Regions from separate parts of the Homo sapiens genome. Here region 2 is linked to region 1. The links come from fine-mapping of genetic effects on plasma protein levels. A gene starts in region 1. The other region holds a variant in brackets. All regions are shown on one strand. Distances are from middle to middle. Region 1 holds the start of CTBS (chitobiase). Region 2 overlaps SPATA1 (spermatogenesis associated 1).

Evidence for each region. PIP is the posterior inclusion probability: the model's chance that the variant is causal. Protein levels are from antibody-based Olink assays in UK Biobank. Linkage for the fine-mapping came from a reference panel and not from the study's own genotypes, which makes the PIPs less certain.
Region 2: its variant is fine-mapped to the plasma level of the CTBS protein (UK Biobank, PIP above 0.99).

What each region holds. Positions count from the first base shown.
Region 1 is chr1:84,568,253-84,578,376 of GRCh38, forward strand. CTBS (chitobiase) reads right to left here and starts at 6,188. Exons shown (of 7, transcript NM_004388.3): 1 at 5,987-6,188; 2 at 2,330-2,468; 3 at 1,679-1,887. The coding sequence starts at 6,163. LOC105378819 (a long non-coding RNA gene) reads left to right here and starts at 9,764. Exons shown (of 2, transcript XR_947544.4): 1 at 9,764-9,883. RefSeq lists enhancers at 4,778-4,827, 5,541-5,640, 5,751-6,040 and silencers at 6,201-6,320, 10,094-10,124.
Region 2 is chr1:84,550,632-84,560,451 of GRCh38, forward strand. It overlaps SPATA1 (spermatogenesis associated 1), which reads left to right. Exons shown (of 14, transcript NM_001397487.1): 13 at 5,279-5,348. CTBS (chitobiase) reads right to left here. Exons shown (of 7, transcript NM_004388.3): 7 at 1-4,568. The coding sequence ends at 4,368. Among named protein-coding and RNA genes, the nearest start is that of CTBS, 19 kb to the right of the region's middle. The variant GTTT/G (reference allele first, on the strand shown) is at 3,056.

The DNA of each region.
Region 1 (10,124 bases):
CATATATTCCACACATCAATTCTAACCTATTAGTAATCACTATCTAGAGAATGAAGGAAAAGTTTCTGAGGCCAAAATGTGTGAGGAGGAGAAGGGGTATTGTGGCCTGTATGCCAGGTATTTGCTGTTCTTAATCTACATTGTACTCTCCTGACAAGTTGAATTCCATACTGACAGATCTTCCCTATTTGCATAAAACCACAGAAATGTCAGTCGTCATATTGCTTATTATTTTACCAGTAATTCTCAAATTATTTTACCTGTAATTTTCAAATTCATGATGACCAACTCTACCAGAATCACCTAGGACACTTGGCAAAAATACAGTTCTCTAAGCTCTATCCCAGACCTACTGAGTCAATCTCAGTGATATGGTTTGGATCTGTGTCCCCGCCCAAATCTCATGTTGAATCGTAATCCCCAATGTTGGAGGTAGGGCCTGGTAGGAGGTAACTGGATTACAGGGGCAGATTTCCCCCTCCAGTGCTGTTCTCGTGATAGAGTTCTCACAAGATCTGATTGTTTAAAAGTGTGTGGCACCTCCCCACCCTCTCTCTTTCTCCTTCTCTGGCTGTTTGAAGTGCTGATCCCGCTTTGCCTTCCACCATGACTGTAAGTTTTCCTGAGGCCTCCCAAAAGCCAAGCAGATGTCAGCATTATGCTTCCTGTATAGCCTGCAGAACCGTGAGCCAATTAAACCTATTGTCTTTATAAATTACCCAGTCTCAGGTATTTCTTTATAGCAATGTGAGAACAAACTAATACACTCAGGATATTTTAAACAAGCACTCTCAGGTAATTCTGAGACAGGTTTAGGAATCACTGGTTTATAATACTCATAATGCTCTATACTGGAATACATTTTTAAGCATTCTGTTAGATATCAAGGAGCTGCACCCCGTCTTCAAAAAAACTCATTGTCTAGCCTATTACTTCTTAACTATAATCACCAATGAAACTTTTTTAAAATTGGGGGCTCTGGGATTACCCAAAACCTTTTGAAAAATCATTTCTGGGAGTGAGTTCACAGTGTGCATGTGTGTGGAAAAGTAAACACATGCTTACTTTTCCTTAAGACCTATGGTTATCTTGATATGTGGCCAAGTTTGAGGATCACTGATCTGGGTTCACATTATCCTCTGTTACCCATCTGTTGTCTGGCAAGATAGCTTGTGTTGTTACCTTCTGCTCTAATCATGTTCATTATGGCAGTGGGGAAGCACACTGCCTATTGTTATAGCTGTCACAGTTCTGTGTAGTTAGTCCTTTAAGCTTTACTGGGCCTTGGGTGCAAGTAATTCAGAGACTGTAGAGCAAGTGATACACTTCCCCAGAACTACCTCTACTCCTGGGTTGTTTCTGTCCTGCATTGGTAAAAGCTGGTTAGGCGCCCCCCTTGATTTTTGTTCTCCCATTGCCTAACACTTCTAACTGTGCTACAAGGCAAGTAGTGGGGGTAATCCCAGTGTTGTATTTTGCTGTGAATAGAGAATAGATTTAGGGCTTTAAAATTCCTTAAATAAGAACACCAAAGGCTCCAGAAAAATTTTTTAGGAAATAAGTGCTGAAACTCTTTCCCATTGCATTACTATAAAACAAAGATTATATTAGTTATACCCTCATGAGTATATTCTGATATGGAAAATATGAGGTTTCCAAAAAATAAATGAGTTTTTACCTGTGATCCCTCAATTTCACGATGGAAAGAGTCTGTAGTTTCTTTGACTAAAGCAGTTAATGCATCATATTCAGGTGATAAACAATTAACTTCTTGCTCTATATCTATATTAATTCCATCCATATATTGTGTTTTGGCCAAATTAAGTTTTTGAGCTATCCAGGATGCTCTGAAAGCAGGATCAATGATATCCTTTAAGGATACATCTCCTGTGGAAGAAGTATATATCTTTTGAACATGTATGCAAAAACATTTCATTATTTTGGAAGACTAAGCCCTTAACTGAAGTTTTCCAATGGAGAAAGAATATACCAAAGTAACAGAAAGCCATTACTCATGAATCTCCAAAATAACCATTATAAATCATTAGTAAAATTGTTCTGAAGTTAGAAACAGAAATTGTGGACTATGATTAAGTAAAGGTCATAAGGCTAATTTGGCAGTTAACATTTTGCTCAAAACCATACAGTGGTTTAATTCTTTTAAAAAGATCTGTGTTTGTGAAATGAATTACACAGTATCTAAGATTAATTATAGGATCCTAACAAAAACAGATAAACATAAAAGGACTTTTTTGGAAAGTCGGGACTATAGCAAGTGATACAGATAAATTTCCCAATTGCTGCACACATAGATCTGGAAACAACATACCTTTAAGTACTACTCTGGCTCCTTTTGAATGAGCGTAGCACATAAGTTCTGAGTCATATTTTCCAAATGTTGCCACAGTTGTAATCTGTGACCAATCATAAGATTTCCAAGTTTTCTGTCCAACATCAAACACAAAGACCTGCCAGAACAAAGATGAGCACCATCATTTAAACCAAGAATATTATGCTGACCGTCCAAAATACCGTTCATCAAACATCACCATACACCAAACACTATGGTGGCAGTGAGAGTACAAGTGCATAAGACATAGGGGTCCCAAGATAATTGGTGGCAGGGGTAATTAGCCAGGCTGGGAAAGAGGGGAAGGATGGGCCAGGAAGGAAGAGTGGCAAGTGCCAAGGCCTGGAGGCAGAGACAACATGGTGGTTGCGTAACTAAATATTTAGTATGGCCGACGTCTAGAATTTGGGGAGAGAGCATTAGTGAAGGACCAGAGAGTAGTAGGCATGGATTAAATCATGAAAGGCCTCATAAGCTCTGTTGAGAAGTTAGTACTACCTTGTTTATCCTGAGGTAAAGGGAGAGAATAAAAGCATTTTTAAAAGGGGAAGGTATGCATTTTAGAAAAATATTTTCAGCTGCAGTGGGAAAAGGATTAAAGAGACACCAAAACTGGAGGCAGAATACAGAAACTGTTGGAGGAATCCAAGTAAGAGATGATGGTGACCTCAACTAAAATTGTGGAGCAGTGGCGTTAAGTGAACAGATCTGGAAGATCCTAAGGAGGCAAAATTGACAGGACTTTGTGACTAATCGAATGAGTAATCAAAGGAGAGAAGTCTGATAATACTCAAGTTTCTGGCTACTGCAGATGGAGCCATAAATACATTTACTGTTTTTTGTTTGTTTGGTGAAGCTAGCTTCTTAGAATAGTACCTAGGTCAAATTCTAAGGCACCTGATGTTGTGTTTCTCTGATATTTTCTTCCCACAGTTAATTCAAGAAGCACAGAAGCCTCACTGATTATTTTTATTTTATTCCAAGGCATTAATTCATTGATTTGGCAAATATTTATTGAATTTCCAATAAGGTACAAGGAGAGTATTTTGCTAGGCTCTAAGGAGATAAAGATTAATGAGAGAGACCAGGTCCAGTAAGGAGTTAACTACTTAATTACAATGGTATTAAGGACTGTAGGGGTTACAGGGGGCCACGCCAGCATATAAAGGGGACCTGCTAGCCAGATGGTGCACGAAAACTTTTCTGAGGACTACACACTTTCGGAGTGGGCTGAAATCAGCAGAATGATGGAAGAGATATACCTATGGACAAAAGATTGCATTCTCAACTGAGGGAAGGGAAAGCCCAAAGGTCGCTACACCTCAGGAGAATTCTGAGATTCTGGAACTGAAAAAGGTCAATGTAGGTAGAGCACAGAAATCCTGCAAGTATGTGGAACTGGATAAAACCTTTAAAGTCGGTAGTGGAAAGATTAAGTAGGACTTCCAAGACCACTGAAGATGTTGTATTTTATCTTGGGATCAGTGGGAATCAATTAGAGTTTTAATTCAGGGGATATGCATTACAAAAGAGATCACTGGGTCCTTGTGAGGGGAATGAATGAGGGAGAGACAGTGGGGATAGCAGCTGTAAAAGTTAAACCAGGCATTTCTTAATTTTTTTTAATTTTTTTTAACTTTTCAGAATTAATTATGCATAACTCATTTTTTCTGCTAAGCAATTGCCTACTGAAATAATAAAAATTCATAATGTGAAATTAAGTGGCCCATTGTTTTCTGACTCATATTTCTATCAAAACTTCTATTTTAGTTCTGATAATTAAGATTCTATTTGTTTAAAAAATACTAAGAGCCTGTGATATAACAGATATCCTTAAAAAAAAAAAAAGCTGGGTGAACTAATTGAAAATATAAGGGGAAAATGCCATGTAGTCTAGTTTTTGTGTTTGAAAAACATAGAAAACGCCAGTAGAGAAAAAGACCATTTACCATGAAGATACAAATAAGCATAATTTTGCTTCTTTGAATAGTTGGTTTTCAAAGTGCCCACAGATATTGCCTAACCCACTAAGTATTGGGTACTACAGTAAATCTTTCAGGTTTTTTTTTTTTCTCTTTTTTGAGACATAGTCTTGCTCTGTCGCCCAGGCTGGAGTGCAGTGGCGTGATCTTGGCTAACTGCAACCTTCCGCCTCCCGCTCCGCCTCCCAGGTTCAAGCGGTTCTCCTGCCTCAGCCTCCCAAGTAGTTCGGATTACATGTGCCCGCCACCACGCCCAGCTAATTTTTGTATTTTTAGTAGAGACGGGGTTTCACCATGTTGGCCAGGCTGTTCTCGAATTCCTGACCTCAAGTGATCCACCCACCTTGGCCTCACAAAGTGCTTCTCAATCTCAAAAAGAGATTGAGAAAATTAAGAAATGTCTGGTTGAACTTTTACAGCTACTGTCCCCACTGCCTCTACCACCGCGCTGGGCCTCAGATTGTATAAAACATTTTAATTGGGAGGCCATTATGCTGAAACAGCTCCAACTGCCTTGGATTTCCTGCTTAAGCAAACTCCAGCCCAAGGTCAACAGTGAAAGGAAACTTAAGCTTAACCTATCAGAAACTGCCAACTAACCTCTAACTAGTAATTTTCCACCAAGTCATAGCTAAATAAGGCAAACAGTCATAGCCAACCAAGTAATTATTTTCCTTTGCTTCCCTGTTCGGCCTATAAAAGCCCATGCTACTAAAGCAGACCTCTCTGAACCCCTTCTGGTTTAAGTACTGCCGATTCATAAGTTGTTCTTTGCTCAAATAAAAAAGGTTATCCTACTTTGTCTGAAGTCTTTCTTTTAATAAGATGTTAGGTTTCCACACTAGGCAGGTTCTCCATAAACACTTTCACCATTTTTATTTCTTCTCCTAAGTCATGTATATATACTTTTTTACTGGCATCTAAGTGTTCTGCCTCAGATTAATGTACTAGATTAAGAACTAGGAATCATGCCTATTTCTACAAAAGAATCGTTCTTTGAATTAAGCCTTTGGACCTTCCTGATGTCATCCAATTCCTGCTTTCAGTCATCGAAGTGGGCAGTCAGGTGGTTTTAATATTGCTCCAGAAGGTGTTTGATTAAAGTTGCCAGAAGCCTTACAAATTGTTATGTAGATAGAAGGAAAATGTACTGAAAGCTATTTTTTTTACCACTCTTCATGGGTGGTTTTGAGGTACTTTAAAGGAAAGGGCTAGCAGGTATAGAAAACTAAAGGTAAGCAAAATACTCTGCATTCTAATGTACTGTTGGAGTGCTGAGATTCTTTCAAACGAAATCCTCGTTCCTTGGAAACATAAATGGATTATCCTACCTTGTTTGCTTTTTACACCCAGAGTGCTTCCGCAGAGGCACAGCAGGGGAATGAAAGGAGCTTGCCTTAGGAGGCAGATCTGGTTTGAACTCTCGCCTGCCTACGCAGGCACTTACAGGCTGTGAGGCCTGAGGAGTTACTCAACTTCTCTGAGCCCGAGCTTCCTCATCTATAAATTGAAGGATCCGTAAACAGGAAGGCCCTCATCGAGTGGTCAAAGCTGGTTTCGGCGCCCACGGCACCTCTCCTTAGGGCTCCGTTCTACCCTAACTTCTCTTCGTGCCCTGAAGCCCAGACCTAGAGGAGCAGAGGAAGGCGCTGACCTCGAAATCTGGATGGTGGCGAATCGGGCGGCAGAGCTCAGGCTCCGGGCATGGGCAGTCGGTCCCGGCCGCGAGCCGCAGCGCCAGCAGCGCCAGCAGCGCCAGCAGCGCTAGACCCGGGACGCCGCTCGGCGGGCTAGAGACGAGGCGCCAGCGTCGAAGCTGCGGCCGGGACATAGCAGCAGGTCTAGCGGGCCGGAGTGGGTTCCTACCGCCTGGGTGGGCGGGGCCTGCTGCGCGTCGGGGCAGGAAGGGGCGGGGAGAGTCGGGAAGGGCGGGGAGGGGCGGGAGGGGCGGGGCTCCGGGGCGGGCGTGGGAGGTCGGGCTTCGAGCGTCCCCGGGCGCTACAGGTGGGTGAAGTTAAGTGGCTGCTGGAGCGTCTCGGGGGACAGCCAGTGTCTGCGGCGCCGAGAGGGCCGTTCGTGGACTCAAATGGGTATCACCCCTACCGTTTATAGTCCTCCCAATAGTCTGCATCTCGTTTTGTCGTGGCTGGTCGTGTACTCCTTGTGGAGTCTGAAGGTACAAGGGGATCCCCAAAATGGAGAAGTGGGTGTCTTTGGAAGGGCCTACTGAGTAACATGGTTGGAGTGGCCAAAAGACTTTGTTTTTCTTTTGCTACTCAAAAGAAAGCTGGAATACCAAAAATTTTTACTTACGGATATCAGGTCTTAGTTAAGATCGTGGTTTGAATTCAAGCATCTAATTTTGCCTACTCTCCTGTTAAAAATCAAGTTTAACAACCTAAACACAAGGACAAAGAGATAACAGCAACAAAATGTTGGAAGCTGGAGAGCACAAGTATGAGTATGAGAGGTAAATCGGAAAAGGGGGAGATTAGTCAAAGGCTGCTCAAGGACTCTGATCGCTAGATCCTTTTTCCAGCTTCATGTCTCTGGGCAGCTGCCCCTCTTTCCCACCACGGGCTCCCACCCCGGCTGAATTCCCTGAAGGGGATAAATTCTCTGCTGAGTGGGTATTCCACCTAAAACGGAGAATAAGTGGCTTTATGCCTACTGAAAACTGAAACCCCTCGCTATCTGATTAACCTAAGAGGCTGAGCAAAGATACTGACATCGGGTTTTCTGGACAAATCATACACCCAGATCACCCTACAGTGAAATTCAAAGTTAAAAGCACCAGCTATCTACTTGGAGCTTCCTCTCTTTGTACTTTTTAATTTTTACTTTTAATCATGGACAGCAACCAAAAAAATCCAATAATGTAGAAAGAAGGGACCCAAACAACAGACAAAGGAATATGGAGGAAGCAGATGCTGCAGGGAGAACACTTTTAAAAATTCTCATAATAGCCCCAGAAAAATAAGAGAAGATGAAGCCACAACAGGGTGCAATAAAAGGGGTAGGGGATTTTTAAAAGTTAATAGAAATAAGAAAGAAGTGAAAAAACTATTAGTAGAAGATAACACTGAGGAATGTAGAGCAAAAACTCTGAAAGATAAGAAAATTGGAAAACGCAGTACAGAGGGGATGAAATAAATAATTCTTAAAGGTGCTTGAGAAGCAGCGTAGTACAAATAAGAAGAAATAAGTAATTTGGGCTGGGCACAGTGGTTCATGCTTGTAATCCCGGCACTGTGGGAGGCCGAGGTGGGCAGATCACTTGAGCTCAGGAGTTTGAGACCAGCCTGGCCAACATTGTGAAACCCCATCTCTACTAAAAATACAAAAATTATCTGGGCATGGTGGCAGACACCTGTAATCCCAGCTACTCGGAAGGCTGAGGCAGGAGAATCGCTTGAACCTGGGAGGTGGAGGTTGCAGAGATCACACCACTGCACTCCAGCCTCAGCAACAGAGTGAGACTCTGTCTCCAAAAAAAAAAAAAAAAAAGAAAAGAAAAGAAATAAGTAATTATCAAGGCTCCAGGACTGAAGAACACGCGTTTTCAGAATGAAAAGCTAGGCCAGGCACTGTGGCTCACACCTGCAATTGCATAACTTTGGCAGGCCAAGGCAGGAGGATTACTTGAGGGCAGGAGTTTGAGACCAGCCTGGGGAACATAGACCCTGTCTCTACAAAAAATAAAAAGCAAAAAATTAGCCCTGTGTGCCAGTGCGGTGGTAAAAGCTTGTAGTCCCAGCTGCTCGGGAGGCTGAGATGAGAGGATTGCTTGAAGCCGGGAGGTTGAGGCTGAAGTGAACTATGATCATGCCACTGCACTCCAGCCTGGGTGACAAAACAAGATCCTGTCTCAAAAAAAAAAAAAGTACAATTGAACCTCCATAACCAGAGGTTCCACATCCATGGTTTTAACCAATGTCAGATAACAGTATTTAAAAATAACAAATAATACAGCAATTTAAAAATGCAAATAAAAATACGGCAAGAGCACTGTCAACATAGCATTACATCGTATTATTATAATTAATCTAGAGATTATTTGAAGTACAGGAGGATGTGCATAGATTATGCCATTTTATATAAGGGACTTGAGCATCCATGGATTTTGGTATCTGGGAGTCCTGGAACCAATCCCTCATGATACTGAAATGTAACTATGTTTTTAACATGAATGGTTGCACTGAATCAAGTTTTCAAGGAAAAGAGCCTTCTGACTCATAGAATCAGACTGTATTCTGTGACACAGAAGAAAACACATATCTACCTGTGTTAGGGATCCCTAAGATCACCTCCAGGTTCAGTGATGCACTAAAAGAACTCATAGGACTCAGTTGTACTCACAGTTAAGATTTATTACAGCAGAAGAATATGAAGCAAAAGAGCAAAGGGAAAAAGTGCACAGGAAGAAGACAGGAGGAGGCCAAGCACAAGCATCACGTTGTAACATGTGTGAAGGGCTGTCTGCCATGGAAGCTCATTAGAGACTCAGGGAACAGCAGGAACACTCCCAAATCCACCTACAGGCCAACCTTCAGGAAGCAGGCCTTTCTAAAGATCGCAGTCTTAGGCCTGTTACGGTAACTCTTTTCTGCATACTAACCAAATGAGGAATTCCTACATATTTGTATTGAATTTTATATTGGTGCTGTACATTCTATGGGCTTTGACAAATGTATAATGATGTGTATCCAGCATTATAGTATCATACAGAATAGTTTCACTGCCCTCAAAATTATCTGTGCTCTACCTATTCATTCCTCTCTCCTTGCTAACCACTGGCATCCACAGATTTTTACACTGTCTCCATAGTTTTGCCTTTTCCAGAATGTCACATAGTTGGAATCTTACAGTATATAGCTTTTCAGATTGGCTTCCTTCACTTAGTAATACGCATTTATGGTTCCTCCATGTCCCTTCATGGCTTGATTGCTCATTTCTTTTTAGCACTGAATAATACTTCATTGTTGGGACGTACTACAGTTAATCCAATCCTGCAGCATCTGCTTCCTCCATATTCCTTTGTCTGTTGTTTGGGTCCCTTCCTTCTACATTATTGGATTTTCTTGGTTGCTGTCCATGATTAAAAGTAAAAATTAAAAAGTACAAAGAGAGGAAGCTCCAAGTAGATAGCTGGTGCTTTTAACTTTGAATTTCACTGTAGGGTGATCTGGGTGTATGATTTGTCCAGAAAACCACTGATGTATCTATTCACCTACTGAATGGATTTTGTGTTATCACTTTTTTGAATTTCACTGTAGGGTGATCTGGGTGTATGATTTGTCCAGAAAAACCCCTGATGTCAATATCCATTCACCTACTGAAGGACATCTTGGTTGCTTTCAAGTTTTGAAAATTATGAATAAAGCTGCTATAAACATTCATGTGCAAGTTTTGTGTTATCACTTTTTTTTTCCAGACAGGGTCTCTGTCACCCAGGCTAGAGTGCAGTGACTTGATCAAGCTCACAGCAGCCTCCATCTCCTGGGGTCCAGCAATCCTCGCACCTCAGCCTCCTGAGTAGCTAGGACTACAGGTACATGCCATCATGCCTGGCTTTTATGTATTTATTTATTTATTTTAGTAGAGGTGAGGTTTTGCTATGTTGCTCAGGCTGGTCTGGAACTCCTGTGCTCAAGGAGTCCTTCTGTCTTGGCCTTCCAATGTTCTGGAATTACAGGCATGAGCCACTGCGTCCAACCCTGTGTTATAACATTTTTAAGCCAAGGAGAAATGTTTGTTTTTGACAACTTAACCATATCTAATTAAATGTTTTA
Region 2 (9,820 bases), 18 kb before region 1:
ATTGACTGTATTAAAATTGTTACCTTAACAGTAAAGAGCATAGGTGAAAAAAAAAATGCAGGAAGAAAAACTAAACCTGTGAAAAGATACATGATATAATAAAGCCAAAGTAAAATTTAGTAAAATTTTACTAGGAAGAATTAAAGGAAAAGGAACCTGTGAGTCAATATATTCTCAAAAAAAATTTTAAGTAGTTTTCCTGTATTAGAATTATTAAGTCTGATAAACCACTGAGCTCTCCTCTGAACTGACATTTAATTTTTTATGGGTAATCGTTTCATTTTTTCTGGTTATTTTCATATGTATTCTATTATTTAAATATGAATAATGTGTCTTCTACTAGATGTTAAGTTTCCTTCCTGGCAGAGACTATGCCTTAGTTAACTTTGTTTCTCCCATGGGACCTTTTGTATAGCAGATGCTTAGTAGAGGCTTCTGGGCATGCTCTATTTGGTGAGAATTGTGTACAACTAATTACATCATAGAAATTATCTGTGAAGTACATATGTATTAAAAAGCTTTTTTGTTGAACAGAAAACAGAAGATTATACATTTTCATACAAGTACCCACAGCAAGGCAGGAAAATGAGAACGATAATTATATGAATGCTCTCATTTCTTTATCAGAAACAGCTTTATGACACAGAATAATGACTGCATTCTAGAATTAGCTCTTTTTAAAAAAATTTTAAAAAGAAAAAAGAAAATCAGTACTGTCCTCGGTTTCAGATAAAAATAAAAATAAATAAAATTTAAAAATAAAAAAATAGAATTAGCACTGTCCAACAGAACTTATGTGATGATAGAAATGTTCTATGCCTGCACTGTCAGATTGGTACCCACTAGCCACCTATTGATATTGAGCACTTGAAATGTAGTTTGTGTGACTGAGGAACTGAATTTTAAATTTTATTTAATTTTAGTTAATTTAAGTTTAGTAGTTACATATGGCAACTGGCTTCTACTATACTGGACAGTGCAGTTCTAGATTCTTTTTACAAGCAGCATTCTCGAGGCTAAATAAGCCCTGGTTTGGCACTGAGAAGCTTAAAACTTAAAATAGAAAAGGAAAAGAGCAGAGGATAATTTTTAACAAAATATCAGTTAAATATGCACTCAAAAAATAATTTGTTCAATGAAGGAAAACTGTCTATTCAATATATGGAGATAAAGCCAATATGTAAACTTGTACACTTAATAATTGGGTAGGTAGGAAGGAGTAATAAAAATGCCCCCAGAGGCTTGGATTATGACTCCCCTCATGCTGTTTTCTTCTGGAAAGCATGCACATTACTTGTAATCTTTGTATATTTTAACATTACAAATGTCACTCATGGTTTGAACTCAAATTAGAATTGTTCATACAAAAACAGTAAGGACAAGTGGAATAAGAGGAAAAAAAGAGAACAAAGTTTTCAGCTTATAGGCTGGGGGGAAAAAATCCTGTATTTAACCATAGTGCCTGATTGACACATAACAGACATTATTTAAGAAGTTTTATTGATTTCTGAATGATCTCCCCAAAACAGCACTACCTATAAGATTCAGAACTAAGGGACAAAAAAAACCCAGCCTGAGTCTCTTGCAACCATATTTATTCAAGATAGTATAGCATAAGTAGTGCTTCTCAAAGTTTAATATATCATCTGAGGATCCTGTTTAAAAATGCAGGATCTGACTCAGTAGGTCTGGGTGCAGCCTGAGATTCTTCCTACCTAACAAGCTCCCAACTGATGCTAATGCTGCTGTCCACAGACAACACTTGGAATAGTAAGGGCTCTGGTACCAGGTGGTTTGAATTTGAATCCTGGCTGTACCCACTTCACTTACTAGTTTTTTATCTTGAGCAAGTTACTTAGCCTCTAAAGGTCTCCATTTCAACTGTAAAATGGGGATAAATACTAGTATCTGATTCTGTAAAATTTTTGAAAAAAAAATAAGAGACTAATACACTTAGAAGAGTGCTTGCCACAGAGTAAACACTATATTTCTGAAATATCTATTCCGTTCCTAAGGGCTAGGAATTAAGGGTTTTTTTTGTATTTTGTTTTCTTGTTGTTTTCACTATTTTCTTTACACATTGAGAACAACAGGTTTTGAAGTTTAAGCAAAACATAAAATTCTTTCTCACTCTAGTTTTTAGAACAGTTCAATTGTATTGTCCCTATCTACTCATAAACAAGGTTACCTTATAGCATATCTCACCAGTAGATAAGCATGCTTATTAAACAGCATTCATAATCTACACATTTACTGTAGTAATCCAGTGGGAGTTGAAAGCACTGAAGCCAAATGAGAGAAGACAGTTAAAGCGGTTACAAAAACCCTGTTTACATGACAACTATGATGTACTTTTAGAAGGGTATGATGAAGTTCATTTTTGAAAAGTAATTCTTTTTATAGATGAGAAAACAAGCAGTTTCAGATTTACGAACATTGAAAACTGAACTGGCACAGAAAAAAAAAATAATACATCTCTACAATCTCAATTAGGTATGTTAATTTAAAACTTTTATTTGTAAAAAAATTTAAATATGTATTTGAACAGATTTGTTTAACCATTATTCTCCTTGGCAATGTTTTATAAAAAGCACAAGGTTTCTCTTTCTCCACTTTCCATGTGGGTATTACAAAATGTTTCAGGAAATATTAGATGTAATATAAAGCAAAATGATGAATGGTTATTTTTAACATTCCAAGTCCTTTACATATTATTTTACAGTGCTAATTTTATAATTTTCATTTTAATAATTTAATAATAAAATTCAATAATAATTTATTTAACAATTTAAGAGCTAATATAACTAAAATCTATTTGCAAAGAATAAATGTATATTAATGAATACTAATATATTTGCATGAAAATACAGACTTCATTTAACTTAATTTGTTCATTATATCTTAATTAAAAGAAATCTGGAAATATAAAAGAATGGGGGTATTGAAGTTGCATTCTGAGCTATGATAGAGATAAGCATCTAAGAATTTAAATTTTTTAATTCATTTATTTTAGAAATATGAAGACAACAGTGATCCAACATATACTATGAAAATG[GTTT/G]TTACTCTGTCACAAACAATTGTGTAAATAGGAAATGTAATATTCTCATAACAGATGGTTCAATCATCATGTATTCCAATTTACAGGGGCAAAATGTGCAGGGAAGCCAGGATTTATGTAAATCTAGAGTTCAAAGATACAGATTTTTAATCTGTAATTAGGAACTAATAAGGGCAGCACAATGTTGTTCTTAATTCCCTGGAGAAAGAAAACAGACTTTATTACATTTAGAAAACTTATTTGTATAAAATTGATCTTTTAGAAAGAGAACTAGTTGAGAAGCTAATCAGTGTCTTTAGATCATTAAAAGCACAATGCAGCTCATGCCTGTAATCCCAGCTCTTTAGGAAGCCAAGGCAGGAGGAGTGCTTGAGCCCAGGAGTTGGAGACCCATCTGGACAACATAGCGAGACCCTGTCTCTACAAAAAATAAAAATAAAAAAGATACATTGCAGATGTAGAAAGAAAAATTTAACCATGTAAGCAAGCTAGCCAAGAAATAAATTATATATGTCCATAAATGAAGAAATGAATAATTAGAAGTGTGACAGTGAACAGAATCAAGTTCAACTGCAAGTTATTCCTATTATTAAAAATTTTACAAATGAGCCTCATAAAAATAATGTAGTTGGAAAATATTAGGTAGTTCTAACTTACCAATTCAAAATATTACTGTTACATTCTTCTATTTTGTGAATACATTTAATCTTCTGGATTCTTTTTAATTCTCACTCACTGTCCAAAGATTTAGTTCAAGTACCTCAGAGAACATAAATACTATATGGAGTCAGGAAGCAGAAAAATTATTTTCATCAGTTTGATGAACCTAAAGGGGAGACACTACATTGTAGGTTTTAAATTTAAGATTTATTGGAGGGTTGGGGGAAAAGTATAGCACAAACTGCTTTTCAAAGACTAGGTTTTTAAAAACTCTAAGCAAACAATTTCCACTTCAGATTATACATATTTTAAAAATCAGCATTGATTCGTGAGCATATATTTTACTATAATGAAGGGAAATATGGCATAATAAAATTCTGAAAGCAATTTTTCCCAATTAAATTATAGTGTTGAAACATCTAATAGAGGAATATTTAATAGGTAAGTTGACTTGCTTCTTGCCTTTATGTTCCTGGATACTGAGGACATTCGTGTGTATTTTTCAAATTCAAACAATCAAAACATTTATTTATTCTTTTTTTTTAGTATACGGATAACAAAAGTATATAGCAACATAATAAAAATGCAAGAAACTAGATCTGTTGATACAGATCATCTTTCTAACTCTTAATGGTTTGACAAAAGATGTTCATCTCTGTAACAGCTTTGGCTTTAAGACTTCCCACATTTCTTCAGTTTGCTGTTTGGCTACAGCATCTCCAGAGTAGTCAAGACAGTTTGCATTCCACATGCCAATGCCCCGTAAGCGATAGTTTTGTATATATGTTGCCTTTAAAGAAATACTCTGAGGGTTATCATACCATACTTGATGAAAGTGGCCAGCAGGATCCTATATAAATAAATTAAAATGGAGATTTTAAAGTATTTAGTACAATTCAGCACCACAGGAAAGGGAAAAATAAAAGAAGTATACAGTACAGTAAGAGGGAAAAAAGTTTCCTAAATCCAATTATTCAAAAAGGATACAATGAAATAAAAATTTTAGGGCATAACACTTTCCTATTCTATAATTCCATGGTTCTATATTTGATACAAATGGTCCCTGACTTACAATGGTTCAACTTACAATTTTTAGACTTTACGATGGATTTATCAGGGTATTTCGTTCATTTTCAACTTATCATATGTTTATGGGTTTATTAGGACACAATACAATCATAAATCAAGGAACATCTGTACTTTCTAGGTATTATTGCTTATGGCACTTTTAACAATGGCAAAGATTACAGAAACGAGCCTCCTAATAGATTCTACTTGAGCTCCTTTTCATGTCCTAAGATTCTTTCCTTGCCCTTAGCCAGTGATTATTAGCCAAGGCGTACATCTGAATCACTTGCGGAGCTTTTAAAATACAGATTCCTGGGTCCCACACCACATGAAACCTATTGAATCAGAATTCTCCAGGGTTAATGCTAGGGCATATATTTGTTTTGTGTTTTAATGTTTCATTAGATAATGCTGGTATGCAACCAAAGTTAAGGGGAATCAATGCTCTGGTCCTCTAAAACCAGCTTATGTGCTTTTTTGTATTCTCTGTAGTTGCTAGAAGTGTGCCTGGCTAGGAGGTCTACAGAAGATTTTGTTTATGATGAATCAGCCAAGTCAAAAGGTAATGGCAATGGAGGAGAAAAGTACATCCTTTTCTAGGTCTTACAGATACATTCTCAGAGTCTGTTAGGTCTGCACTTTATTGGTGACTTAACATACACCTGATTATGAGCCATAAATTAGATTCTGGTCTTATGTTCACCTTCCACCCTAAAAAGTCCTTCTGCCCAGAATCAACTACCTCTATCTAGTACTAACACAGTCTCTCTCAGGCAGCACATGAGCTATTGGATAAGAGACAAAGGAAAAGGGAAAGGAGCAGATCTAGGACAAAGTGCAAAGGAAGGTGAAAAAGATAGGAGATAAAAAATAGAAAGACCTGTGACTAAAAATAATTTACTTATTTTTATATACATCTAGGAAACTCCTTAAAGGCATTTCTGAATTAATGCCAGTAATATTTACAGCAGCACTCCTGGAATTAGAATAGTCTCTTAAGATGACCACTTTGGGGCCGGGCACGGTGTCTCAGGCCTGTAATACCAGCACTTTGGGAGGCCGAGGCAGGCAGATCATGAGGTCGAGAGATCGAGACCATCCTAGCCAACATGGTGAAACCCCATCTTTACTAAAATACAAAAAAATTAGCTGGGCTTGGTGGTGCATGCCTGTAGTCCCAGCTACTCTCGAGGCTGAGGCAGGAGAATTGCTTGAACCCAGGAGACGGAGGTTGCAGTAAGCTGAGATCACGCCACTGCACTCCAGCCTGGAGACAGAGCAAGACTCCGTCTCAAAAAAAAAAAAAAAAAAGACCACTTTGAAGGAAAATAATTCACCTGGTAAATGAATACACTGCGGCATATTTAAATATGGTAGACTAATTGTAATCAAGCATATCTCAGTCTGTATCTTATATTCCATTCTTTAACATTTTTAGAACTAGACAAAGCCATGCATGCCCTAGTAATAGTTGTGATTCATTATTAAAAGGCAACTTGTAGAACTTGTACTTAAATATGACAGATTATTGAAGATTCAGGGGCAAACCCAAAGACATATACCTTTGAATTTTGCCATCATTCTAGCTAGTACTTTGAGCCTTTTTGATATTATTAAGAAATTCAAATGTCTCAAAATTGTAAAGGAACAAAGGGCAAAAACTAAGCACATGTAAGACTAATTTATGCATGGTTAAGGCATATTTGCTTTCCAGAATATTGAGTCCAAGATGAGCTGCTATTGCTGAAACAGCCCAATAGAGTGATTCTCTTCAAATAAGACAGAAACTTGATTCATGTTGCTACAGAATTTTGCAATTAATAAAAAAGAGGGGGCCAGGCGCGATGGCTTACGCCTGTAATCCCAGCATTTTGGGAGGCCAAGATGGGTGAATCACCTGAGGTCAGGAGTTCAAGACCAGCCTGGCCAACATGGTGAAACCCTGCCTCTACTACAAATACAAAAATTAGCTGGGTGTGGTGATGCATGCCTGTAATCCCAGCTACTCAGGACGCTGAGGCAGGAGAATTGCTTGAACCTGGGAGGCGGAGGGCGCAGTCAGCCGAGATCGTGCCACTGCACTCCAGCCTGGGCGAAAAGAACAAAACTCCATCTCAAAAAAAAAAAAAAAAAAAAGAAAAAAAAAAAAAGAAGGAGGCTGGGCGCGGTGGCTCACACCTATAATCCCAGCCCTTTGGGAGGCCGAGATGGGCAGATCATGAGGTCAGGAGATCGAGACCATCCTGGCTAACACAGTGAAACCCCGTCTCTATTAAAAAAATACAAAAAAATTAGCCAGGCTTGGTGGCGGGCACCTGTAGTCCCAGCTACTTGGGAGGCTAAGGCAGGAGAATGGCGTGAACCCGGGAGGCGGAGCTTGCAGTGAGCCAAGATCGCGCCACTGCACACCAGCGTGGGCGACATAGTGAGACTCCATCTCAAAAAAAAAAAAAAGAGGAAGGAAACAGTTATAACTAGATTTTTTTCTAAAGTGGCATTAAATGGCCTTCAATGCGCACCAAAATGTTTCCTGAATTCTGAGACCTAAAGAATGTGTTTCTTCATAGAAACAGAGTAAAAAGGTGGTTACCAGAGGCTGGGGGTGGGAAGAATAGATATTTCAAGACACAAATTTTCAATTAGGAACAATAAATACAAGAAATCTACTGTATCCCGTGGTAACTATAGTTAATAACAATGTATTATGTTGAAAATTCCTAAGAGAATGGATTTTAAGTGTTCTTACCATTTAAAAAATGGTATGTGAGGTAATACATATGTTAAATAACTTGATTTAGCCATTTCACAATGTATAGATATATCAAAACATCATCTTCTACACCATAAATACAGATAATTTTTGCCTGCCATTAAACTTTTTTTTTTTTTTGAGACGGAGTCTCGCTCTGTCGCCCAGGCTGGAGTGCAGTGGCGGGATCTCGGCTCACTGCAAGCTCCGCCTCCCGGGTTCACGCCATTCTCCTGCCTCAGCCTCCCAAGTAGCTGGGACTACAGGCGCCCGCCACTACGCCCGGCTAATTTTTTTTGTATTTTTAGTAGAGACGGGGTTTCACCGTTTTAGCCGGGATGGTCTCGATCTCCTGACCTCGTGATCCGCCCGCCTCAGCCTCCCAAAGTGCTGGGATTACAGGCGTGAGCCACCGCGCCCGGCCACTTTTTTTTAATTAAAAAAAAAAAAGAGGCCAAGTGCAGTGGCTCACACCTGTAATCCCAGCATTTTGGGAGGCCAAGGTGGGAGAATCACTTGAGGCCAGGAGTTCAAGACCAGCCTGGGCAATATAGAAAGACCCCGTCTCTACAAAAAGTAAAAAAATCAGCCTGGCATGATGGCACACGCCTATGGTCCTAGCTACTTGGTAGGCTGAGGCAGGAGGATTGCTTGAGCCCAAGAGGTCAAGGCTGCAGTGAGCCATGATTGTGCCACTGCACTCCATCCTGGGTGACAGAGCAAAACCTCGTCTAAAAAAAAAGAAGAATGTGTTCCTGCATTTTCACATTCATTAAGGAAAAAACAAGCCACAGATTACTAAGGTCAGGATTACAAAGAAACAGTATATGGTAGTATATACTGTCCTAAGATTCTATGTTACATATTTTTAAATTACAGGCATACCTCATTTTATTGTACTTTGCTTTATTGTGCTTTGCAGACATTAAATTTTTTGCAAATTGAAGGTTTATGGCAACTCTATTGAACAAGTCTACTGGTGCCATTTTTCCAACAGCAAGTGCTCATTTTGTGTCTGTGTCACATTTTGGCAATTCTTAAAATATTCCAAACTTTTTCATTATTATTATTATATCTGTTATGATGATCTGCAATCAGTGGTCTTTGATGCTACTATTGTAATTGTTTGTGGGCACCATGAACTGCCCATATAAGACTTAATAACAATATTTGGCTAGGCGCGGTAGCTCACGCCTGTAATGCCAACACTTTGGAAGGCCGAGATGGGAGGATCACTTGAAGTCAGGAGTTTCAAACCAGCCTGGCCAACATGGTGAAACCACATCTCTACTAAAAATACAAAAAATTAGCCGGGCATGGTAGGGCATCCCTATAACCCCAGATATTTGGGAGGCTAAGGCACGAGACTCACTTACACCTAGGAGGCAGAGGTTGCAGTGAACTGAGATTGTGCCACTGCACTCCAGCCTGGGTGACGGAGCGATACTCCATCTCAGAAAAAAAAGACTTAATAACGATATTGAAATTAGACTAATAACCTTACAATGGGAATTTTGCAATGAATAAAAAAGAGGAAGAAAATAGTTATAATTAGATTGTTTTCTGAAGTGACATTAAATGGCCTTCAAGGCTCACCAAAATGTTTCCTGAATTCTAAGAGCTTAAACAATGTGTTGGCCAGGTGCAGTGGCCCATGCGTGTAATCCCAGGCCTTTGGGAGGCCAAGGTAGGCGGATCACTTGAGGTCAGGAGTTTGAGACCAGACTGGCCTACATAGTGAAACCCCATCTCTACTAAAAATATAAAAATTAGCCCGGCATAGTGGCGGGCACCTGTAATCCCACCTATGGGGGAAGCTGAGGAGTAGAATTGCTTGAACCCAGGAGGCAGAGGGTGCAGTGAACCCAGAGGGCGCCACTGCACTACAGCCTGGGCGACAGAGCAAGACTCTGTCTCAAAAAAAAAAAAAAAAAGAAAGAAAGAAAGAAAGAAAGAAAGAAAGAAAGGAAAGAAAGAAAGAAAGAGAAACTAGAATCCCTCTTCCCTAAAATGGGTCATAGAAACTAGAGCCTCTTTTCCCCAAAACCAGCCATAAAGTCTAAAAATGTTACTCTAACCTTTCCCACCACCACCTTTCTGTGTAATAGCTGGCCATAAAGAAATTAAGACCCTCATTCCAGAGAGGTCCTACCCCATACCCATGAGAAGAAATCCTTCACAGAGAGGCCAAGAAAAATCTGAACAGACAGTCCTTGCTGAGTTTTCCCACTCAGTCTGTTTGCATTAGCTCATGCCCTTTATTCTGATCACAGTTCTACATAGCT